Linked DNA regions of Homo sapiens. The protein of the gene in region 3 purifies or fractionates together with the protein of the main gene of each other region. This does not show direct contact. Each region holds a gene or a part of one and is shown on either strand. Other genes may lie near its edges. The genes, in order: SH3BP5, LYG2, RAB11B, PI4KB, SERPINB5, HEPHL1 and PLCD1.

What was found.
Region 1: the proteins of RAB11B (region 3) and SH3BP5 purify together in Homo sapiens (affinity purification with mass spectrometry; 4 studies listed by BioGRID and IntAct, with this or other methods). This does not show direct contact.
Region 2: the proteins of RAB11B (region 3) and LYG2 purify together in Homo sapiens (affinity purification with mass spectrometry; 2 studies listed by BioGRID and IntAct, with this or other methods). This does not show direct contact.
Region 4: the proteins of RAB11B (region 3) and PI4KB purify together in Homo sapiens (co-immunoprecipitation; 3 studies listed by BioGRID and IntAct, with this or other methods). This does not show direct contact.
Region 5: the proteins of RAB11B (region 3) and SERPINB5 purify together in Homo sapiens (affinity purification with mass spectrometry; 2 studies listed by BioGRID and IntAct, with this or other methods). This does not show direct contact.
Region 6: the proteins of RAB11B (region 3) and HEPHL1 purify together in Homo sapiens (affinity purification with mass spectrometry; 2 studies listed by BioGRID and IntAct, with this or other methods). This does not show direct contact.
Region 7: the proteins of RAB11B (region 3) and PLCD1 purify together in Homo sapiens (affinity purification with mass spectrometry; 2 studies listed by BioGRID and IntAct, with this or other methods). This does not show direct contact.

The regions. Positions count from the first base shown.
Region 1 is NC_000003.12:15,253,853-15,256,719, forward strand, and holds the end of SH3BP5 (SH3 domain-binding protein 5), read right to left. Parts: exon of another isoform or gene 2,452-2,867; coding exon 2,234-2,451; 3' UTR 501-2,233; downstream 1-500. UniProt on the Homo sapiens protein: Functions as a guanine nucleotide exchange factor (GEF) with specificity for RAB11A and RAB25. Inhibits the auto- and transphosphorylation activity of BTK. Plays a negative regulatory role in BTK-related cytoplasmic signaling in B-cells.
Region 2 is NC_000002.12:99,241,746-99,245,666, reverse strand, and holds the end of LYG2 (lysozyme g-like protein 2 precursor), read left to right. Parts: intron 1-208; coding exon 209-405; intron 406-1,529; coding exon 1,530-1,668; intron 1,669-3,184; coding exon 3,185-3,303; 3' UTR 3,304-3,421; downstream 3,422-3,921. UniProt on the Homo sapiens protein: May act as a potent antibacterial protein that may play a role in the innate immunity.
Region 3 is NC_000019.10:8,396,860-8,400,359, reverse strand, and holds part of RAB11B (ras-related protein Rab-11B), read right to left. Parts: intron 498-3,500; coding exon 302-497; intron 1-301. UniProt on the Homo sapiens protein: The small GTPases Rab are key regulators of intracellular membrane trafficking, from the formation of transport vesicles to their fusion with membranes.
Region 4 is NC_000001.11:151,293,861-151,296,416, reverse strand, and holds part of PI4KB (phosphatidylinositol 4-kinase beta), read left to right. Parts: intron 1-1,875; coding exon 1,876-2,008; intron 2,009-2,278; coding exon 2,279-2,399; intron 2,400-2,556. UniProt on the Homo sapiens protein: Phosphorylates phosphatidylinositol (PI) in the first committed step in the production of the second messenger inositol-1,4,5,-trisphosphate (PIP). May regulate Golgi disintegration/reorganization during mitosis, possibly via its phosphorylation.
Region 5 is NC_000018.10:63,479,958-63,483,457, forward strand, and holds part of SERPINB5 (serpin B5), read left to right. Parts: intron 1-3,500. UniProt on the Homo sapiens protein: Tumor suppressor. It blocks the growth, invasion, and metastatic properties of mammary tumors.
Region 6 is NC_000011.10:94,069,854-94,073,353, reverse strand, and holds part of HEPHL1 (ferroxidase HEPHL1 precursor), read right to left. Parts: intron 2,981-3,500; coding exon 2,812-2,980; intron 330-2,811; coding exon 190-329; intron 47-189; coding exon 1-46. UniProt on the Homo sapiens protein: Is a copper-binding glycoprotein with ferroxidase activity. It oxidizes Fe(2+) to Fe(3+) without releasing radical oxygen species. May be involved in the regulation of intracellular iron content.
Region 7 is NC_000003.12:38,006,996-38,009,819, reverse strand, and holds the end of PLCD1 (1-phosphatidylinositol 4,5-bisphosphate phosphodiesterase delta-1), read left to right. Parts: intron 1-8; coding exon 9-167; intron 168-388; coding exon 389-548; intron 549-661; coding exon 662-778; intron 779-1,183; coding exon 1,184-1,362; intron 1,363-1,452; coding exon 1,453-1,585; intron 1,586-1,656; coding exon 1,657-1,806; intron 1,807-1,961; coding exon 1,962-2,047; 3' UTR 2,048-2,324; downstream 2,325-2,824. Other genes in the region: VILL (villin-like protein), read right to left, coding at 2,765-2,824. UniProt on the Homo sapiens protein: The production of the second messenger molecules diacylglycerol (DAG) and inositol 1,4,5-trisphosphate (IP3) is mediated by activated phosphatidylinositol-specific phospholipase C enzymes. Essential for trophoblast and placental development.

The DNA.
Region 1 (2,867 bases), on a different chromosome or scaffold from region 3:
GGCTATTTTCCAGATGGTGTTTCTTCTAGGAGGAAAAAGAATTGCCTCAATTGCAGGGAAGTTTTTGCTAATGGTAAGTCAAGCAAGTCTCAGTGTCTTTACTACAGGTAAAAGGGTGTAAGGAGATTTTATGAGAACTGAATGAACCCTGAAGGTCACTAGTCAAATTCAGGTATGCTGTTAAGTGTTCTTGCTTGAGACCCAAATTACAAGACTGGCCAATTTTTGTATTTTTGGTAAAGACTGGGTTTCACTATGTTGCCCAGGCTGGTCTCGAACTCCTGGGCTCAAGTGATCCACCAGCCTTGGCCTCCCAAAGTGCTGGGATTACAGGCATGAGCCCTTGGGCCCAGCCGGCTGTTTAATGTTCTTAAATAGCACAAGGGACTTCTATGAACTTTCCTAGATGAAATATTTATTAACTACTAGGTAAAACACTTGTTTGATACTGCAAAGGGTTATTTCTGAAACTTAAACCTCATGATTGGCCAACCAAGAACTTTTTCTCCACAGCATGCTTTAATAATGAAATGCGGATTAAGAGTCCAATATTATAAAACATTTCCACAAAAGAAAGAATCCATCTGATTCTCAACTCTGAATGCACATTTGAATTCCCTCGGGGAGCTTTTAAAAGTCTAATGCCCCAGTGTACCCCCCCCAGTTAATTAATTAAATAATTCTCTGGGGATGAGAACTGACTGACAGCAACACTTAAGCTTCGAGACTGCAGTGTGCAGCCGAGGCCCACTCCTCCAGCGTCACCACCTCGTCTTTATCTGCCACTGTGTCTCCTCATTGCCCACAGCTTTAGCAACAGCAAAAGTAGAATTCAAACCTTGGTAAACAAGGCTTAAATTATTACTGTTCATGACCTTAATTAATTGAAAATGATTACTGGTGACCACAGCACTCCATGCTCTTCCTTATGGAAAAAGGGTTGCCTAGAAGATTTAGGCAATACTGGGAGTTCTTATTTGAAGTCACAGAAAGGAGAAACTTTTCTCAAGCCGTTTTTATTACACTTAGTGTATTAAGACAAGTACAAAATAACCTTGTAATTAAGATACTGTATCAGTCAAAAAAGAAGTCACTATTGTATGAAGAGATTTACAAATGACTAAAATATACAGGCTGTGACAGAATTAACAGTTTGAAAGAGGGTTGCTTTTTTCTTTTAGAAATGCTAAATTTTCTTAACAAGACAAAAATACAGTGCTCTAAATATGCATTACCATGAAAACGTTAAAGAAAAGCAGTCTTAACACTTAACTACTATTAACAGCCTTTGCCAACACATGCCTGCCTACTCCCTTTCCTAACTTTAAAGAACTGTTTCCTCTAAGGAATACTAGTGCAGCATAACCCTTAAATAATTTCATTTATTTTTAAAGTTACAACCTACAGAGAAATTAACATCTTGTCAATCTAATAACAGTGGCAACCATTCTTCACATGCACTTCTCTTAGAATAAATCCCCTTGGCTGGCAGGATAAGGCTTATGCTGTAGAACCTTCTCCCCCACAGCCACAAATCCCCTTCTATAAGTCCCTCCTACCCTCATCCCCCCGCATCCCCACTGGCATTCACCTTTCCCACCCCAAAAAGTGCAGCTCATGGTAGCCTTCTAGAAAATGGTTTTAATGGGTATCCCAGCATACACGCTTTTTTAAAAGCCCCCTCTGAACACCAGAGGTGGTGAAAATGAATTGTGTTCTTGGATTTTTTTTTTTTTAAGCCTCCACTGGGTCAAAAATATGTGCTCTTAATACTTGAGTTTTTGCTTTGTGTGTGGGTTTTCTTTCTTTTTCATTTAGATATCGTGGGATAAAGTGGAGAGGACATCTCCATTTTCCCATACAAACTGAGGGTGAGAAGAGAAAGAGAAGCAAGCTGTTGCCCCCACTTTGGCCTGGCTTCCCAGCCATCTTCCCAGCTCTGGTTCTTTCATAGGAACTAGTTATTGCTTCCACAATGCCGTTATACGGAATGTTCCACAAAGGCTGTGAACCTAGTCACAGTCTACCCACAACAAGAACTCTGCTCTGAAAAACCAGCCCAAGAGCTCTTACCCAGAAGAACAATCTTTAGCCCTCAAGGTCACTGAAACTTCATTAGAGCAGTTTAGAGTAGACGTGTAAGATTTGGCATATATTAAATGATTATTGGCACAATGTTCTCCAGTTCCATGTATAAATGTTGATATGCACATCGGCCAGGGCCCAGGATGAATCAGCCAATCTGCACCATTTTTATGTCAGCAATAATTCCATCTCTTCCCTTTGAGCACTGTAGGGAGAGCTGCTTCATCCGGTTCTCCAAGGCCTGGCCCTCAGGGGAGGTGCTGCTTTGGCTCTTACTGCTGCCACCACTGCCACTGCTACTGCTGAGGCCCCGGTTGTTGTTGGCTTTGTCACTTGTTTTATTCTCTGCCCCTTCTGCCCTGTCTCCTATAGAAATACAAGGATTATCAAAAGTGAGTATTGACAATTCTGCCCTGTCTCCTATAGAAATACAAAGATTATCAAAAGTGAGTATTGACAATTCTAAGTCACTTGAGCTCAAACCAGTCAGCTAACTCAGCCCTGTAGAAGTCCCACTGTTACCTACCGTGCCTATCAGAGAGGTTCTCAGTACATAATCATTTACTGCTTTTATTCCTTGTGATGTTTTATATATTCCTTAGCTATAGAGATGAAATTTGCCATATTCACTTTATTGCTGAGAAACAAACCTCTCTACTATGTGCTTGCCAAGGAGACTGTTCTGATGTGAGACATAGGACCTAAGCTCTACTTTATAGAAGCTGAGTGGAGCCAGGAGCCCCCCCAGAACAGCACTTGGAAACAACCTCAGTGATCAATAC
Region 2 (3,921 bases), on a different chromosome or scaffold from region 3:
AAGAAACAGTTTCTTTTCTTTTTTTAACTTTAAATTCTTTTTTTTTTTTTTTTTAATTAGAGATGGGCTCTCACTATGATGCCCAGGCTGGTTTCGAACTCCTCCTGGGTTCAAGCAATCCTCCTGTTTCAGCCTCCTGTGTAGCAGGAACTGACTTCAGGCACACACTACCATGCCCGGAAAAACAGTTTCTTTTCTATTGACGTAGGGATCCGTGGTTCTGAAATGTTTGCTGAGATGGATTTGAGGGCCATAAAACCTTACCAGACTCTGATCAAAGAAGTCGGGCAGAGACATTGCGTGGACCCTGCTGTCATCGCAGCCATCATCTCCAGGGAAAGCCATGGCGGATCTGTCCTGCAAGACGGCTGGGACCACAGGGGACTTAAATTTGGCTTGATGCAGGTATTTAGCTAGAAACTTTCTATCAGCCCCACTGCATCCCTCCTCACAGAAGCTCAACCTGAACTAGAAATCCATTTGCAGTGCTTCCAAGCCCCAAAATACCCTGGCATCTGGCTACAGGTACTCCAGCATAATTTTTTTTTTTTTTTTGAGATGGAGTTTCATTCTTGTTACCCAGGCTGGAGTGCAATGGCGTGATCTCGGCTCACTGCAACCTCCACTCCCGGGTTCAAGTGATTCTCCTCCCTCAGCCTCCTGAGTAGCTGGGATTACAGGCACACGCCACCATGCCCAGCTAATTTTTTGTATTTTTAGTAGAGACGGGATTTCACCTTGTTGGCCAGGCTGGTCTTGAACTCCTGACCTCAGGTGATCCACCCACCTCAGTCTCCCAAAGTGCTGGGATTACAAGCTTGAGCCACTGTGCCCGGCCACTCCAGCATAATTTGATCTGGGATTTCTGTAACACATCTTTTTATTTTATTCAAGGCTTATTCATTATTAGATATATTTTAAAAAGTATTTTAGGAGTTTCATAACTACCATTCTGCAATAAATAATATGTAATACACTAAAACTGAGAAAATCTTATAAATAGCATTATTGTTACAGGTGTCCTCTTGGGGTTCATGAAGTAGTAAATTTCATCCATGTGGATCAAAACATGGTATAACTGTGCCCTACTTGAAACAACTTGTTCCTTTGGGTAAACTGGAGGAAGGGGATCCAAATTATCTGGATATTTGCTTCCAGGCTCGATTTTAAATTGTCTGTAGAAATACAGACTTCTGGCCTTCCCAGTTAGAAACAAATTTTTATCTGAATTAGCTGGATAATTATTTATTACTATAAATGTGTAGACTTTGGGTGTTATTTGTTTCAAAACAACTTAAATTTTTTTTTTGTATATTAGAATGTTTAGCTAAAACTATACCATGTCCATTTCTCCCAAACCTTACTTTGTTTCTCTGACTCTCATCTATATGAAAGAAAGAACAATAGAATTGACTCTTTGGGGATAAAGGCCGGTATCTATGACTTGAATACCAGGAGAGGAAATTAGGAATGGCAGAAAAAATGTGTTACCTCATCCAGATGCTGACTTTATTATCTGAATTTTCTAGCTTGATAAACAAACGTACCACCCTGTCGGTGCCTGGGATAGCAAAGAGCACCTTTCACAGGCTACTGGGATTCTAACAGAGAGAATTAAGGCAATCCAGAAAAAATTCCCCACGTGGAGTGTTGCTCAGCACCTCAAAGGTAGGCTGTATTCTGAGTACTTTGTTTAAATGAGCAATGAATGAGACCACTGAAGGCCAGTGTGACCCGAGACTCCCTGGGAGCATTTCCACGGGGTCAGCAGTGGCCCTGGGAGGAGCTGTCTAGAGGCTGCATTTGCATTCCCTGAACCACTGAGTTACTTTGAGAGGTCCTCCATCCTCAACCTCCATTTCCTCTTCTGCAGAATGTTGGGGTTCTTATTCATTGCTTACTGAGCTATTGAGTGATACCTTGAAACATAGTGAGACCCTGTCTCTACAAAAAAAAAAAAAAAAAAAAAAAAAGCTGGGCATGGTGACACACAGTCCCAGCTACTCAGGAGGCTAAGCCAGGAGGATTGCTTGTGCCTGGGAGGTTAAGGCTGCAGTGAGCATTGATTACATCACTGCACTCCAGCCTGGGAGACAGAGTGAGACCCCATCTCTCAAAAAAAAATTTATCTATCTATCTATCTATCTATCTATCTATCTATCTATCTATCTATCTGTTTGCCTACCTCTCATAGGTTTTTTCCTGTTATAAGAAACTGTCAACAACTTTCCAAATTGTCTGAACAATGTTACTCTGTGAGTATTTTCGGGACTTCAGGTGCTATATATCCAAGTGGAAATCTCTGCTTGGCTGACCACAGGCCCCCTCAAGTTCAGCATCTCCCAGATGGAATTAACTCACTAACTTCCCACTATAAATTTGCTCTTTCTTCTGCATTTTACATGTCTTGGAGGCACCATAATATAGCCAGTCATCCCAGCCTGAAAACCAGATTGCTTTCTTAGGCTCTCTGGTTCCTTCTCTCTTCACACCCAACCACATCAATTCCTATTAGGTTTGCCTCCTATTGGCCAATGTTATGTCCTCCACACTCTAACGGCCTTAATCAGAACAGTTTCTAGTCTCTACTTCAAGGTCCTTGAAGGCAGGGATCAGGACCAGGCATCTTCCTCTCTGGATATCAGAGCAGAGCACAATTATGTTAAACACATACATAACTACTAGAGATAAAATTCTAGGGTAAAATAGCACACACATGCATATGTACACATACCCAAAGAAATAAGTGTGTCTTGGGTACCTTGCAGTCAGTGTGGCACCTCTCCTGGCACATAGTAGGTGCTTGAAAACATTTCCTGAATGAATAAATGAGTGAGTGAATAGATGAGTGAATTATTGAATAAATGAGAGAATGTTACAAGCATTTTCAGCAGAGGATGTACTGGGAGTCTAGTTCTGCCAGGCCTGGATTACATAAAAAAGCAAATCTGATTTTTGCAACAAGAAAAACCAAAGACTTTGGAAAAAGAGAAAGAAAGCAATCTGGAATTTTCCCAGTGATTCTTGGGATAGCACGTCCTTTCAGAAAGGGAGGGAGAGGGAGGAGGATTTGGGACTGCCTGCTTTGGAAGATTTGCCTGGAAAGCTAACATCTTGGCAATGCTCATTGCTTATTTCTGTTGAAAGTTAATATTTGAGCCTAATTCTCTGTGTTTCATTTCAGGTGGTCTCTCAGCTTTTAAGTCAGGAATTGAAGCGATTGCCACCCCATCGGACATAGACAATGACTTCGTCAATGATATCATTGCTCGAGCTAAGTTCTATAAAAGACAAAGCTTCTAGGCAAAGCTCTGTGGGTGGGCCAGGTTGGCAGAGTGCTCAGATGGCCGCCTTTGAGAGTTTTACGTGAATGTGTTGTATACAACACTGGCAAAGAAATGATTAAAATCATGAAAGAAAATTCATTTCCCAATTTTCTGAATGAAAATAAGCATTGAAAAAAGGAAAGAAAAATAAAAGAAATCCATCCAGTTCACAATATGGTTCCTAGGAAACGGACATAGACATATATATAATTACTTTGCAGTAAATGTGAATATCATGGCAAATGGTCCCTAGGTATTCCAGCCAGGCTTCATTTTAGCCTGTGATTCCAATGCCCACCTACTCCCTGTCTACCAGAATTGCTAACAAGTTAAGTAAGCCTTACCCGAGCCTTTGTCTTTTTTCCAGTATCTGCCCAGAGCCCTCAGGCTTTGCTTATGAGAAGTTCCTGACTCGTAAGCCAGCCAATCCATGGGACAATGGAAGAAATAGGGATGGAATTCTAGCTTCATGGGAAACTGAGAGCCAACTGAGGTGAAGCTGTCATTCAAGTTAGATACACCAAGTCCTTCAAACCCACAGCAACCTCCTGTGTTTTCTTTTGTCTGTGAAGATCCAGGGACTGGCTTTTCTTAT
Region 3 (3,500 bases):
GCTGAGGGAGGAGGAAGGCTGGGATGCTGGCTGGGCAGGGGCAGCGGCAAGGCGGAGTGGCCTGAGCTAGGTCCTCACTGCACTTGGTACCCAGAGATACCCTGGTGTGGCGAAGGCTGGGCGCTGGTCAGCCTGAGGGTCCCACGGCGCATGGCTAAAGCGTTCTTCCAGCCTCACTCCCTGGTCTTGGGAGCACACTCTCCCCTTCTCCTGCCCAACTCCTACACATCCTTCCAAGCCCACGCGCTGCAAGCCCACGCCCCCGAATCTCAGCGTCCCTGCCCAGGCTGCCGACACGCACGCGGAGGTGATGGCGCGGTAGCGCTCCTGGCCAGCGGTGTCCCAGATCTGCGCCTTGATGGTCTTGCCGTCCACCTGGATGCTGCGGGTGGCGAACTCCACGCCGATGGTGCTCTTGCTCTCCAGGTTGAACTCGTTGCGGGTGAAGCGCGACAGCAGGTTGCTCTTGCCCACGCCTGAGTCCCCGATGAGCACCACTGGGCGGGAAGGCGAGGTTCTGTGAATCCCCACACTCCACCCACGACTGCCCCCACAACCTTCCCGCCGGTTCCCTGGGTGCTGCACCAACGCGGCTGCCAACGGTGTGGAGGAGTCGAGAGATGCCTGGAGCCCAGGGCCTGCAGGCACTGTGCTAAGTGGTGCAGAAGTGAAGGCAGGCTCCTGCCTTCCAGAAACAGCCACTGCGGATAGCACAACACCTGCCTGTGTCTGGTCCTCAGAGCAGGGCTGTCCCAGCTGGGGCAAGGGGACCCAGGCAGCCAGGCAGGCAGAGCAGCTTGAGATCCATCAACCCTGAGCCTCCACCTGCAGCCTGGTGGCTGGGCAGCCAGACACGGCTTGAGAAGGCTCCTGAGCGGGGTGACCTTGGGCAAGTCACTTCACCTCTGGACTACTTTTTCCAAATGTGTGAACAGGAAGGCAGTCACAGGAGGAGGAAGTAAGAGCAGGCATGGCCAGGCACGGTGGCTCCCGCCTGTAATCTCAATGCTTTGAGAGGATGAGCCAGGCGGATCACTTGAGGTCGGGAGTTCGAGACCAGCCTGGCCAACATGGTGAAATCCCGTCTCTATAAAAAATACAAAAAGTACCCGGGCGCGGTGGCTCACACCTGTAATCCCAGCACTTTGGGAGGCCGAGGCGGGTGGATCACGAGGTCAGGAGATCGAGACCATCCTGGCTAACGTGGTGAAACCCCATCTCCACTAAAAATACAATAAAATTAGCTGGGTGTGGTAGCGGGCGCCTGTAGCCCCAGCTACTTGGGAGGCTGAGGCAGGAGAATGGCGTGAATCCGGGAGGCGGAGCTTGCAGTGAGCCGAGATCACGCCACCGTACTCCAGCCTGGGTGACAGAGCGAGACTCCATCTCAAAAAAAAAAATAATAATAATAATAATTAGCTGGGCGTGGTGGCTACTGTAGCCCCAGCTACTCAGGAGGCTGAGGCAGGAGAATCGCTTGAGCCCAGGAGGTGGAGGCTGCAGTGAGCCGAGATCGAATCACTGCACTCCAGCCTAGGCAACAGAGATTCTGTCTCCCCCCACGAAAAGAGCAGGCATCGCACAGGAAGGGACACGAGTAGGCAGCTGTCACGGTTGTTGTGGTTTCTGGTCAGGGCATGGGAAGGGTCACTGCTCCAGGTATGTAAGTGACAGGACATGAGGAGCTACTCCCACCTCAACCCCCACCTCTCCTGGTGCAGCAAACCCACATCCAGCTTCGGCACAGATGGCTGAGTGGGAAACAGGAATGTGCCCTGAGGACGCAGCCCGGAGGAAAGAGCCTGCAGCCACCTCCCACCACCCCTGTCCCCAGGGTCAGGTCCCCTGCTGAGCTGCAGGGAGCTCCAGCCAAGGCTAAGTCCTCATTCAAGGGGCAGTCCGTGTGGCAGTCCACGTGTGTGCACAGCTCCTCACAAGGCTCCAACACAGGTATGCATTGTCCCAGGAGGGGGGTGCACAGCAGAGCAGCTTGCCAAGATGCAAACCCTGGCCCAGAAAGGAGTCAGCGCAGCGTGGACAGAACAGAGATGAGGGTTTGTGGGCAACAGCACCCAGGGACGGGGGCCTGAGCCCAGTCGACACGGGGTGTGCAGCAGGCCTGTCTCATGCTGGCCAAGGAGCATCAGGAACACTTTCCCTGAGCAGAGCAGGTGCCTGCTGGTCAGGCCAGGGGTGAGCTGCCTTGTAAACTGTTTCCTGTCCCAGCCATGGAAGCACTGTCCCTATGGGCCCAGCCGCCCCAGGCTCTGGGGTGGGGTCTGGGTGAGCTGTCCCCAGACCCAGAACATACCATGTGGGGAAGATCAGTGTGTGTGTGTGCACTTGAATACAGCCAACCAGACGCCCCAGCCAGAAGCCCCGTGGACCCCCAAGTGTGGGCCTTGGGCCCCGGCACCTGAGGGTGGGTTGGCTCAGTGGCTTGGTCATCCCTGGTCCCAGGGAGTTAGGGGGCATCCACTGAGGATGAGGCTTCCTTGTCTGGGAAGAGATGGGTATGGCTGTTCCTCCTGAGCTCGGGGAGGTGCTGGCAGCCAGGCTGAGCCCTGGCTGACCCAGAGGTCCGCTGGCCCCACTCGGGACCCCTGCTACATTGAGGGAGCAGGCCCTGGAGCCCACCAGGCAGCCCTCCTCTGCCCTTCCCCTGGCCACACTGTGGGGCTGTACCTACACGTTTGGAATTTTCCCTCTAGAAAACATTCTCTCCTGACCCAACTTCCTGCCTCGGGCACTGGAAGGTATCATCTACACTCACTCACTCCACCTCCTGTCCCCCAGTCCTAGAACTCAAACCAAGCACGCTTTCGCCCCCACAGTCAGTGTCAGCCTCAGCTACCCCCACTCCCCCGGGCCTGTGCAGCAGGCACCCAGCCAGCTCTCCCTCCTTCCCTGCCTGCAGGGGCTCCACACCCCGACTCCTCTCCTCACAGTCACTCCCACTCAGTCTCCCACTCTACCTTCGAACCTCAGGGAGCCTCAGGACAGGCATCTCTGTCCACACCCAGTCCCCAGGTGACCCCATCCAGGCTCATGGCTGTAAATACCAGCCATGGGCTGGTAACTCCTATATTACCTCTCTCCCTAGAAGCCCAGACTGGCGTGCCCATTGTCTCCTTCATGTCTCCTCAGGGGCCCCAGGCCCCTCATACCCAGAAGAGCAGAGCCAAGCTCCCGATCACTCCCTAAGCCTGCTCACCCACCGCTCACCTACCCTCCTTATCTTGGTTAACTTTGGCTTGGTCCTACCAGGCACTCATGCCAGAAACCTGGAGTCATTCTCGACTCCTTCCTTTCTCTCGCATCTCAGAATCAATCCTTCAGCACATCCGAAACAGATCCAAGAGAAGGGAGGACGAGGGGTGCACCCCACCATGTCTCCCTGGGCGATTCCATTCCAGACTCTCAGACCCTGGAAGGTATTGTCTGTGCGGTCCCTGTGTTCACGCTCATCACCAACCAAAACGCTGTCCTCCTGCAGCAGC
Region 4 (2,556 bases), on a different chromosome or scaffold from region 3:
GAAAACCCTGTCAGACACGTGTTTCCTCATGAGGGAAATAACAGTCAGGTAGCTTTTAGACCCTGTGCTCATTCCACCCTGCGCTCATTCCACCCTGCCAGCCCTACAAATGGACCCAGGCTCTGCATTTGAGAGCTGTAGGAGAATGTAATATTTTTGTGTGTGTGTGTGAGACAGAGTCTTGCTCTGTTGTCCAGGCTGGAGTGCAGTGGCGTGATCTCGGCTCACTGTAACCTCTGCCTCCCAGAGTTCAAGTGATTCTCCCACCTCAGCCTCCTGATTAGCTGGGATTACAGGCATGCGCCACCACGCCCAGCTAATTTTTGTATTTTTAGTAGAGACGGGGTTTCACCATCTTGGCCAGGCTGGTCTCAAACTCCTGACCTCAGGTGATCCTCCTGCCTCAGCCTCCCAAAGTGCTGGGATTACAGGCGTGAGCCACTGCATCCGGCCGAGAATGCAATTATTTATAAGGAATTTGATTGCAAGCTTCAGACTATCTCAAAGTGTCAGGATTTTGAACTCAGGGCCCAGGGAGCCTAGAGCTCAGTCCTGGGATTGAGTAAATGGGTGGCAGGGAAGCTGGCACTAGTCAGGCCCCAGGGCTTTCCTTTAGGGAATTAGTATGTTTGGAAGATGAGAGTCCATCCTCTAAAAAAGAAGGGATAGAGGAGGGCAGGTAGCTGATAAGCCGTTCATAGTACCTCAAAAAAGAATAGATATAGTCGAGCCATGAATGGAATCAACCAATGGAAAGAAGTGGCAACAATGAATGAGGCCCCATACTGGAGTCAGGTTTTAGGATCTCTTTAACTGCTTCAAAAGTAGTCCTAAGCAGCTTTCCAGCTGGAGCTAACTCTGGTAGTGAAAAGAGAGGCTATGGCACCTTGGGCAAGTAAATCACTTCCTCTCTCAGGGCCTCTGTTTTCTTCACCTGTAAAATGTGAGGTTGAACCATGACAACTCCTAGAACCATTCTGGCTCACAAGATTGTGCCTGGATTGCTAAATCTTTAGTGTTTTCCCTGAGTGGGGAAGAACTCAGGTTGGACTAGGTTCTCCTTTTGTCCCTCCTCTTTTGGCCAAACCAACCCCAGAGAAGGTGGCCCTCAGACCATCAGCTCTTAGCCTAACAAAGCCTCTATTGACACTGAGTAGGCCAGTTATGCTGAATAGGCCAGGCCTCACATGCTTAGCATGTTAATTGTTCCTTCTGCTACTGGCCATTCATGTGGGAATCACAAAGACCTGGGATTTATCTCCCTTTAACTCTTCTACAGCTGCCCTGTAGTACTGCCTCATCCTGAGACTTTTTAAGTAAGTGATTTAAAACTTACCCCTTGAAGCCCCCACGCTATTTTACATTTCAGCTCCACTCAGCCTGCTTGCTTCTGTTGTTGTTCCCTTCCAGTGAGGCCTCTGATCTGCAGTGGGCTGACAGGAGTTACAAATAACCCACAGGTAAACAGGCTCAGAATAGAGCCTCCCCTGAGTAGAGCGCTTGGCCTCTGTGACAGCTGGCTGGAGCCTCAGAGGCCCTCTTTCCTTGCTTCTGGATTCTCTACTAGATTGGGATAGTTTGGGTGCCAGAAGTGCAATTTCTGGGAAATTGGGAGAATCTTAAACTATTTTTATTAAATTATTAATAGCAATTTCAGACCCCATAGCCTTTGTTAGCAGTTTTCTGATTTCCTTTCTTTCCACTGATAGCTTTAGGTCCTAGGAAACTGGACAGGAGATTGGAGTTACGGGCAGCAGGAAACATGGCAGGGGACCCCCCTCCCTGGTGTCATGTGGCCAGTGTATTGCTGCTTAAGGTTCCAGCCTCAGTCAGACTGACTACTGCCTCTTCCTCTCCTCTATTCCCCCTCCTCAGACACAATGGGAATATCCTTTTGGACGCAGAAGGCCACATCATCCACATCGACTTTGGCTTCATCCTCTCCAGCTCACCCCGAAATCTGGGCTTTGAGACGTCAGCCTTTAAGCTGACCACAGAGTTTGTGGATGTGAGTCAAGAAGGAGAGGTGCCTCTCGGGGGTCATTGTATTCTTTCTCTGTCATGGGAGAGGGAGCTGATGGGCTCCCTGCAAATTAGGGATGAACAGAACAGGCAGTAATTAGGGGTGAGGCAGGAGTTCCTGGGAGCTTCCTGCCCAATAAGGAAGGGGGAAATAACAGGGCCCCAAGAGGAGGAGGAGTTCTGGTAGGCCAGTCAGGACAGGGACCATCCCCGGTGTAAGACCCCTTGTGCACACAACGCTCTCTTCCCTTTCCAGGTGATGGGCGGCCTGGATGGCGACATGTTCAACTACTATAAGATGCTGATGCTGCAAGGGCTGATTGCCGCTCGGAAACACATGGACAAGGTGGTGCAGATCGTGGAGATCATGCAGCAAGGTGGGGCTGGGGTGAGGTCAGGTGCTATAGTGCCTCAGGCTTCCCCTTTAAGTCGGAGCCCTGGAGCATAAGAAAGCTGATCCCACGAGACTCGGTTGAGGGAGGGGGGTTCCCAGAGAGTTTCTAGCTCTGGTCCAGTGCCTTGTTTCTCCTTTAG
Region 5 (3,500 bases), on a different chromosome or scaffold from region 3:
GAACAAATGCCAGCAAAGATGCAATTAACAAGAAAGCAGGTGATCAGGTGTGGCGGGGAAGTGCCAGGCTGGGAGCTAGAAGCAATGAATTCTAGGTCTGGTTTTGCCACTCTCACTCCCTGCGTGGGTGGCCTGGGAGACTCACTTCATCTTTGTCTGCCTCATTTTCCTCATCTGTAAAATGAAGAGGTGTGGCCAGCCTAGATCCTCTCCAAGATCTTGTCCCACTTTCAAGGTTTATAATTTGCACAGATTGCGAAAGCAAGGTACTTGGAAATAAGTTCTTAAAACTGCATTTGTATTACTGCTTGAACTTCCATCTATCTCACTTTCCTATGGTTAAAATAAAGTTCCTTTTAAACTTTTAAGTGCTGAAAGATGTAGCGTTTTCTACATTGCAACTATAAACGAAGTTCTCCTTGTTAAAATGGTTACAGGGTTTTCACAGAAATGGAAGAAGACCCTTGTGACAAGGCAACAGAATGAAAAAAAATTTGTAGCAATTTTAGCACTTTCAACAGAAGTCATTAGGCACATTAAATTTATTATATAGGAATTGCTAATCTCTACTCTGGTACTTGCAATTTTATAGCATTTGATCATGCAAAATGGTCTGTGTAGGAAGTTTGTATTTTTTCCAGGTCATGTATTGTTAACATTGCTGAGGTTTGTTTAAATGCTTTGATTGTCTTGCAACACAGTCATGTGGCAACTGTGGCCAAAGTCATCTTTTGAGCTACCTCAGACCAGATCAACTTTATAGTGTTTTTAGGTCACTTGGGACTAATCACAGAGCCACTGATCAGATTTACCGGGCAGTATTTGATTGATTACTTAGTGGGTGATTTTTTGCAACTACAACCTTTTCCATGTACAGACCTTTTCTGTTTCCTTTAGCCAGCATCAAACAATGCTCTTGCCACTGGGACCCCAGATACTAAGGGCTGTATGACCTTCCCAGACATGAAGGAGAATTTTCTGAGAAAGGAGCCAGTCAGCATAGGAACAGGAAGGCAGATCTCTTTGCGTTCATGCACTGAGGATTAGCATGCAAAGGAAGGGACTCACTCAAAGGGAAGGTCCGCCAATGGTGAGAGAAAGCCCCAGAGATGTTAGGATGTCAGATGTGCACTGATTTACATCTCCAACAGGGACCTGGATCTAAGCCTTGAATTGCAACACAGCATTAATTGTATTGTGTAATTAACTACACTAAAAGCCACAATGATCTTGTATCCACAATCATTTAGACTAAATGTATCTCAAAATGTTGTGACAAGTGAATGAATAATGCTTTAGTGAAATAAAATGGTAAAATGAACATCTCCTCACCATTTGATCCACTCCTAAGATCCATTTGTAGGTGTTTGCAGCCAAACTCCCTCAGCACATTAAGATCTTAAACACCATCTTTCTATACAAAGGAAATCACTAAAAGTATAGTTTGTTATTGACTATGCAAAATTATTCTAGTTTCTCTTGGAGGATAATAAATACGTGCTTGGAGGAGCTACTTGTGTTTGTTAAAGCAGTTTGTGTGTTTTCATATTATTATCAGTGCGATTAGCTCTCCACTGGTGGAAGTGTTAAGAAGCTTTCAGGGATCTGGGTTTAGGCTTCTCTATTTGGTGAAGAAATAACTCATTACTTCTTGTACATGTTGAGTTTTACTTGTAGATGAACTTGGCATTACTAATATTAAATGTGCTGTGGAAGGAAGCCAGGTTTCCTATTCTGAAAGTCTGTCCACAGATTCCCCAAACCTTTTGTGAAGAGTTTCTTTATGTTTTCCCAGTGGCAGGCACACTGGGTGAAACACTCAACAGGCTTTCATTTTTGCCTCAGTATACCCTGCTGACCTCAGTATACACCTAATGCCAGTCACCTTTCCCTGGGGTGTGATGTCACCTGTAGGCCCTTGCCCCTGCCCTGAGGGGAGAAGGAGTAAGGTTGTGGGCTTTAAAGAAAAGTGAGAGGCCCACCTGACTTCAGGGGGCCTCGTGGTATATTTGCAATGGGAACTGGCCTGAGCGCATGGCTGTACTTATCAGGGACATATGGAGAAGGAGGAAGCCCATGGAAATGACCAGTGAGCATGAACAGAGTCAATAAAACATTATTTTTGGATAATGAACTCGCTTTTTCAGACTCTGAGATATAATCGATTTAAGTCCATCCTACACACAAGCCATATATCCCATAAAAGGGAGAATTCTGAAGAAATGTTTAAAGACCAGGAGTCCTCTCCTCCATCTTATTCTCGTCTTTGCATTCTGAATTTGTGTCCAGGTATAAGGTGCAAATTGCAATCCTATTCATCATGCCTTTGACTCTTGACACACGTTTGGGTACTGGCCAAAGGGAGTCCTCTATCTTAAGCAGTGGAGCTTACTTTCTAATGCCAGGGTGCATGTCCTACCTGAAGACCTTCAATGTCACATTCGGCCCTTGTGTCTGTGTGTGTGCGCCTGAGGCTTTGGGGGAACACTTCGAGTTTAATCCCTGTACTGCTCACCCCGGGGTAGTAATATCAATTCATTTCCCTTAGAAACATGCTGTCCTGGCTTAGGCAGAACCTCAGGAGTTCATGTAGTTCAGCTCTGCTCCCAGAAAGGGAAGCCCTGACTGCCTGAATTTACCTAATTGTCTTTGGAGTCGATCAGTAACTACCAGACTAAATAGGTAGGTAGACCTTTATTAGAACAGTGAAGCTTTTTAAATCTGAGGACCCTGTTACACTCTTAAAAATTACCGAGGACCCCAAAGAACTGTTTCTTTAAAAAAAATGTAGATTATATCTATCACTATTTACCAAACTAGAAATGAAAACCAGACACATTTTGAAATGTTCATTTACTAATTTATTAAAATAATATAATAATTAAATACTAATATGAATAATATATATATTAAAAAACATTTTCTAAAGTGAAAAAATGTAATGAGAAGAGTGATATTGTTTTTCATTTTTGCAAATCTCCTTAATATTTGGCTTAATAGAAGGGATGTCATATAGCCTCTGGAAAACTCCGCTGTCTATTAGAGATTGAGAATGATAATGTCTTAGTATTATCATGAGAATAGTTTTAACCTCATGGACCTCCTGAAAGGGTGTTAGGGACTGCCAGGAGTCAAGACACAACACTTTGGAAGTTGCTGTGTTAAAATTAAAGAGCTCTGAGATGTGACAAGATGCCTAGTTGCTGCTATATCCACTTTACCAGGCTACATATTTTGAAACTGTTCCCTCTTTTCTTTAACTCCCATATTACTTATTATACCACTCACATGTCTTGGGCAGCTCTGTATTCTAGTTATTTGTCTGCATATCTGCCCAAAGAGACTATGAGCTTAGAGAAGGAGGAGGTCCACTGATCCTTGTAACACTCTGGGTAGTGTCTTACACACAGATGCGTATTATAAACGCAAACAATAACCGCTGCTGTTTATTAAGTATTGTTATGTGCTGGGTGTCCTGCAAAGGCATTAGTTACTTTAAG
Region 6 (3,500 bases), on a different chromosome or scaffold from region 3:
AAGGTCACTAACAGGGTATCACCCACCTCTGCCTTGATGACTGGGCCTGAAAAAATATCCAGAAGAAGAGAGAGAAGAGAATGAAAAGAGACAGAAAGAAGTAAAGCAGAAGAGTCATTCTGTGCAGATGTACATGCCCAGCTAAAACATCTCCCTGGGTTCAATGCATGGGGGATGGTTTTACTGTACCAAGAATTCCAAGATGGGCTTCTTCAGCAGAGAGTCTCTTTCTTTTAGTAAAAGTTGCATCAACAAATTCAGTATACCGAACCTTCCAGTATTTTCCTCCTATTCTGTTGTCCCCTTGTGTGAAGTAGAGATCAGAGTCACTGAAAAGACATAGGAATGTGATTGAGGACACTTCTCAACATATCCACCAAATACTTTAATTATAGAACTTCATTCTATCACTTTTAGTCCACTCGCCCACCCATGTCCCCAGAAAAGACAGCACAGGCCTTGACAGAGTTCCCAGGAATAGTTAACCAGCCCTAAAAGTCTTCAGAGGCTGGGTGATACTCAAGCTCATTTCTCTCAGCCATTGTACTTTCTTCCCAAGAGGTCCAGCACTGAACCAGTCACAAGTAAACTCCTTATTTACCAATAGTAGAGTTCCAGAATGGTGTTCTACAAAGTAACAAAGAGCTAACTGGTTTCTCTGCAGAATAAGCATCCCTCTCTCTCTTGCTGATATTAATATGAATATTCTCTGCATCTAGTAAGCTCTTTGATTTCTGGCATTATTAAGGAATGGAGTGTCTAGTTAATCAAATAGTGTAATTATTGGAGGGCTACCATATAAACCATATGCATGAAATGCAAAATTTCCAAGTCGTGAATATGATAATATAAATTCTGACTAATACTGTCTCTATACTATCTTATTTCCATCAATGGTGCCATCACTCTTGCAGCCACGTAGATTTTCTTTTTCTGCTTCATTCCCTTAACTCATTCATCCTTACTTTGTAAAATTTTTTGGCACTCTTCCTTTTCTATCCTCCTTGTGCATCTTTTCTTTTCCTTTCTTCCCACTACCACGACCCCAGTTCATGCCCTAATCACACTGGGTGGAGCCCATTATATGAACCTCTGAACTGCATCCTCTATCTGATACTGGCTCATTCACTTTTCTTCTCAGCATAGACACACAACTATTAGATTGGTGCAAAAGTAAGCCATAATGGTCATAATGGCCAAGACCGTGATTACAAATTACTTTCAATGGCCAAGACTGTGCTTATTTTTTCACTTAATACATTAATCTCCAAAATGGCAATTGTTATTGCTATTTACCTGCTCCAAAATCTTCAATTGCTTCCAATTGCCAATCAAATAATGTTCAAAAAGATTAAAGGACCTCTGCAATTGATATCCCGTTTACCCCAATTCTCTATTTCTCCATGCCAGTGCCCATTCTTCTATGCAAATTGTTACTGCAGTCTCATCTGTTCATTCCTCCCATGCCACAGGTGCTTTGCATCAACCCCTCCATCTAAAATTCCTCTCTTCCCTATTCAGTTAAATAAATTCTATCACTCCTTAAGATTTTGCTTAAGTCTCACTTCCTCTATAATGTGTTCCCTGGCCAGCTTAGCTCTCTCTGAGCATCCAGATAACTCACTACCAGGACAACTCACCTCACTTTTATTTGTAACTTGCAGTTACTTCTCTACTCTTGTGAACCCAGCTTCTTCCTCTGCATTTTATTGCTTTAGATATCCTTGCATCCCTCATGTCATCTTGCACTTTGTGCTTTCATATATCACATTAAACATTGATTGAATATAGTTTAATCTTTCCTATTTCAGAAGGCACTTCAGAATTCTAGAAGGCTCCTAAGACAATTTTGAATGCTAATTCTCATTATTCTGTTTATGGAGAAATACTAGTCAATAGAGAATGTTGATATCAGAGTCTTTCACATATGGTTCACACAAATTCTTTAGACAGGGTTCAAGTGCATCCGTTTGGTAGAATAATGAGTGAAAGTATGAATGAATGAATGAATGAATGAATAAAATGTACAATTAAAGAAACAAATGATGTTTTATTGATCACAAAGAGAATTTTTAAAACATTCCCTTAAATATAAAAAAGGATTCTTGATATCACACTGTACATTTTTTAGTATCTTCACAGACAACTTTGCATATGATTATATACTAACAAGTCACAGGAGTCCAGATCCACCTAATAAATTGCTAGATTAATTTTTTAAATAGTATATTCTATGGGAGCGCAGAGAGAACATAATTCATTTATATCAAGAGTCAAAGGTTTCACTTCAGAGGTGACATTAGAGTAAGGCTTTGAAAGAAAAATGGCATTTTACTGAATAGAAAGGAAAAGAATATTTGTAGGACATAAAGGGGACACAACTTAAATCAGGATATCCTTGAACCAAAAAGGGTAACCCTCTTAGGCCAGGTCATCTCCATCTCCTGTCATTCCCTCTTCAAGACTGTCTGCTCCATATGTGTAAAGGCCTTACTCTATTCTTTGTCAGCTTAGTATTTCTAATGGCACTTTGCACTATAGTTTGCACATAGTGCCTACTCAAGAAATGTTTGATCAATGAGTGAATGATCTAGTGTTTTGATTCAGCCGTCAAGTCACAAAACAAAAAATATTCTACCAGTTCTCAGCAGTGCTTTTGCAGTATTAAGAACACCTTAAGCAGCTACATTATGCCATCTATGCAGTATAAGCTCATCAGAGCAGTGGTTGGAATACAAATTAGATCACAGAGAAAGCCTAACACATGCTTCTCTGACGAGAGGCTTAGAAACACCAACAAAGGGTGCTTACCTGCCAGAGGCGTTTAGAGGAAGACCACTGAATTTGTTATAGCCTTGAGGAGCATAATCCCAAAGAATTTTTTCAGCTGCTATAAAGTAGCGCCTCTGTTGACCCTTCATCTTGGGGTAGAAAATATCACTTTTGCAGTTATCAACATTGTATTGCCCCAGCATACCAGCTGCAGAACAGAGGAAAACCACGAGCTGAGGCATAAATGATCACAAAAGGAATCATATAGGAAAAGACTGATAGATTTGGCTCTTGAACATTTAGGCTTCTGTACAGAAAATTGGACCATAAAGAAAGTTTTTTTAAAAAGGATAAATGGCAACAGGAGGGATATTTGTGACACATATGACAAAAGATTAATACGTAAATCACTTTTACAGATAAAGATGAAAACAAGTAAATCTCCAATAGAAAATGAGCAAGGAACAGAAATAGTTTATTCACAAAATAAATAATATTGGCCAATAAACAAATGAAAAAGAGGTTCAACCTTAACAGTACTCAAATAGTACTCAAACCTTAACAGTTTTCAAATGATACTATTGTTCATTGATCAGATTAGTAAAGATTAGAAAGACTAATAATTCTCAGTGTTGGTAGATGAATGGGGAAAGAGCCATACTCATACACTTCGTGTAGAAGAATAACAATTTCCAAAAGAGAATGTGGCAATGTATGTCCATAGCTTT
Region 7 (2,824 bases), on a different chromosome or scaffold from region 3:
CCACCTAGCAACTGAAGGGGAAGATCCTGCTGAAGGGGAAGAAGCTCGGGGGGCTCCTGCCCCCTGGAGGGGAGGGTGGCCCTGAGGCCACTGTGGTGTCAGACGAAGACGAGGCTGCTGAGATGGAGGATGAGGCAGTGAGGAGCCGTGTGCAGCACAAGCCCAAGGTTTGAGGGGGAGCTGTGGGGTGGGGCAGCCCGGGCCTTCCCCATCCCCTCACCCGTGGGAGGTCTGCCTTGTCTCAGTTCTCTGTGGCTGCCACTCAGACCCTCTGCCCCGCTCTCTCTGTCTGTCTCCCTCTGTCTCTCTGCGCCTGGGTTTCTGGCTTTCTCAGTGCCTACCCTACCCCAACCACTGAATCTAACCCGGGCCTCCCCGTGTTCCCCAGGAGGACAAGCTCAGGCTAGCACAGGAGCTCTCTGACATGGTCATTTACTGCAAGAGTGTCCACTTTGGGGGCTTCTCCAGTCCTGGCACCCCTGGACAGGCCTTCTACGAGATGGCGTCCTTCTCTGAGAACCGTGCCCTTCGACTGCTCCAAGAATCAGGTGAGGCCTGGCTCCCCACCACTCCCCTGCTCTGTTACAGAGAGAATTGGCAGGGCAGGGCTTGGGCCTCACCAGGAGGCCTCCACTGCTGACCGAACCACACCTCCCCTCAGGAAACGGCTTTGTCCGCCACAACGTGGGGCACCTGAGCAGAATCTACCCGGCTGGATGGAGAACAGACTCCTCCAACTACAGCCCCGTGGAGATGTGGAATGGGGGCTGCCAGATCGGTATGGGCTGGCTGGGGCTGGAGGAGGCCTGGAGGAGGGTTTCAGTCCCAAGGCCGGGGGCCTGGAGCCTCGAAGGCCATGCAGTGGAGCTCTGAGGACCCAAGCAGGGTCAAATGCAGGGGCTTGTGGAGCTGGTAATATCAGTCTGGAAATATCTGCCCACCAGCATGTCACAGTGTCTGAAACCTCATTAGCACACTAGTCCTTTGAATTCTCACACCAGGAATGGAAGGTGTGGTTAGCATGGTGGGTCACTGAGGGTGGCAGGAGGGCAGCAGGCATTGGAGTGATGCTGGGCCCTGCTAACTCACCATGTGACCCTAGGCCTTAGTGTACCCTGAGCAGGCTGTGCTCTAGGGCCCCAGGGCCAGCCCACAGCCTGTGACTGCTCTGTCCTGCCTGTAGTGGCCCTGAATTTCCAGACACCTGGGCCAGAGATGGACGTGTACCAGGGCCGCTTCCAGGACAACGGGGCCTGTGGGTACGTGCTGAAGCCCGCCTTCCTGCGAGACCCCAACGGCACCTTTAACCCCCGCGCCCTGGCTCAGGGGCCCTGGTGGGCACGGAAGCGGCTCAACATCAGGGTACGCTGGACCTAGGAGGGACAGGTGCCCACGGACCTCCCTTCCCCGCTACCACTCCTGAACTGTCCATTGTCCTCTGCCTTTCCTCAGGTCATTTCGGGGCAGCAGCTGCCAAAAGTCAACAAGAATAAGAATTCAATTGTGGACCCCAAAGTGACAGTGGAGATCCATGGCGTGAGCCGGGACGTGGCCAGCCGCCAGACTGCTGTCATCACCAACAATGGTAGGTGCTGGGCCTGGGCTGGGCTACTAGGGCTGGTGTCCATGCTGCTGATATGGTGCCTGTCCCCCTAGGTTTCAACCCATGGTGGGACACGGAGTTTGCGTTTGAGGTAGTTGTGCCTGACCTTGCCCTCATCCGCTTCTTGGTGGAAGATTATGATGCCTCCTCCAAGAATGACTTCATTGGCCAGAGTACCATCCCCTTGAACAGCCTCAAGCAAGGTGAGTGTCAAGAGAAGGGGATGGCCAAGGTGGTGGGAAGCAGGGCCTGGCGTCTCTTGGGCTGGGGCTGGCTGTCCCTTGACGCATCCACCCCCCCTCCGCCGCCGAATGACCAGAACTCTCTCTGTGTTCCCTCCTGCCTGTCCACCCACCAGGATACCGCCATGTCCACCTCATGTCTAAGAACGGGGACCAGCATCCATCAGCCACCCTCTTTGTGAAGATCTCCCTCCAGGACTAGGCTGGAGGAAGCCAGTGGGGTCCCCCCTGAGTGGGCTGGGCCCTCTGTCCACATGTGGGGACAGGGCTGGTGTGGCTGCTCCCAGCCTCTTGCTCAGAGCTAGGCCCCCAAATTGCCTTCAGCCCTAACATAGTGTCTGCTGCTGCCTCCCTGGGGACCAGGAGCTAGCCCAGTCCCTGGAGCTGTCCTTCATTCCGTTAGGAATAACACTGCAGCCCTCTCCACCCTCCGGCCAGCGAGTGGTCAAGGATTTTTATAAAAATCACGATAAGATTAAGCCTTGTGGTCTCTTTACCTGGATGCCAGAAAAATCCCCTGTGAAGCGTGTGTGTGTGTGTGTGTGTGTGTGTGTGTGTGTGTGTGTGTGTGTGTCCCCATGTCCTAGAGTGCTGGAGCCCTAGCACCTCACTCTCCACCTTCCTTGCACATAGTTGAGTAGGGCAGGGGTATCTGGAGAGACCAACGAGAAATAAACCCCTCTGTGGGGTGGCACTGAGAGCTCACACCCGCCAGCCCTGGAGGCCCCTTCCCCTGAGAGGTGGACCTGCTGAGTGGCCCGGGCTTGAAAGCACGCATACCACAGCTCGTATGGGCTGCCTGCTTTTACTGACACGCAGAGGATGACCAAAAGCCTCTGAGGGGAGTGGAAGCAGGGCCTCCCCAGCATTGTAGGTATGTTGGGGTCCAGGGGATAGGGGCAGTCGAGAGGGCTTGGGTTCAGAAGAAGCCCAGCTGCTTTTTCTCCTGCCGCTGCCTCCACGTGGCCATGCTGTAGAA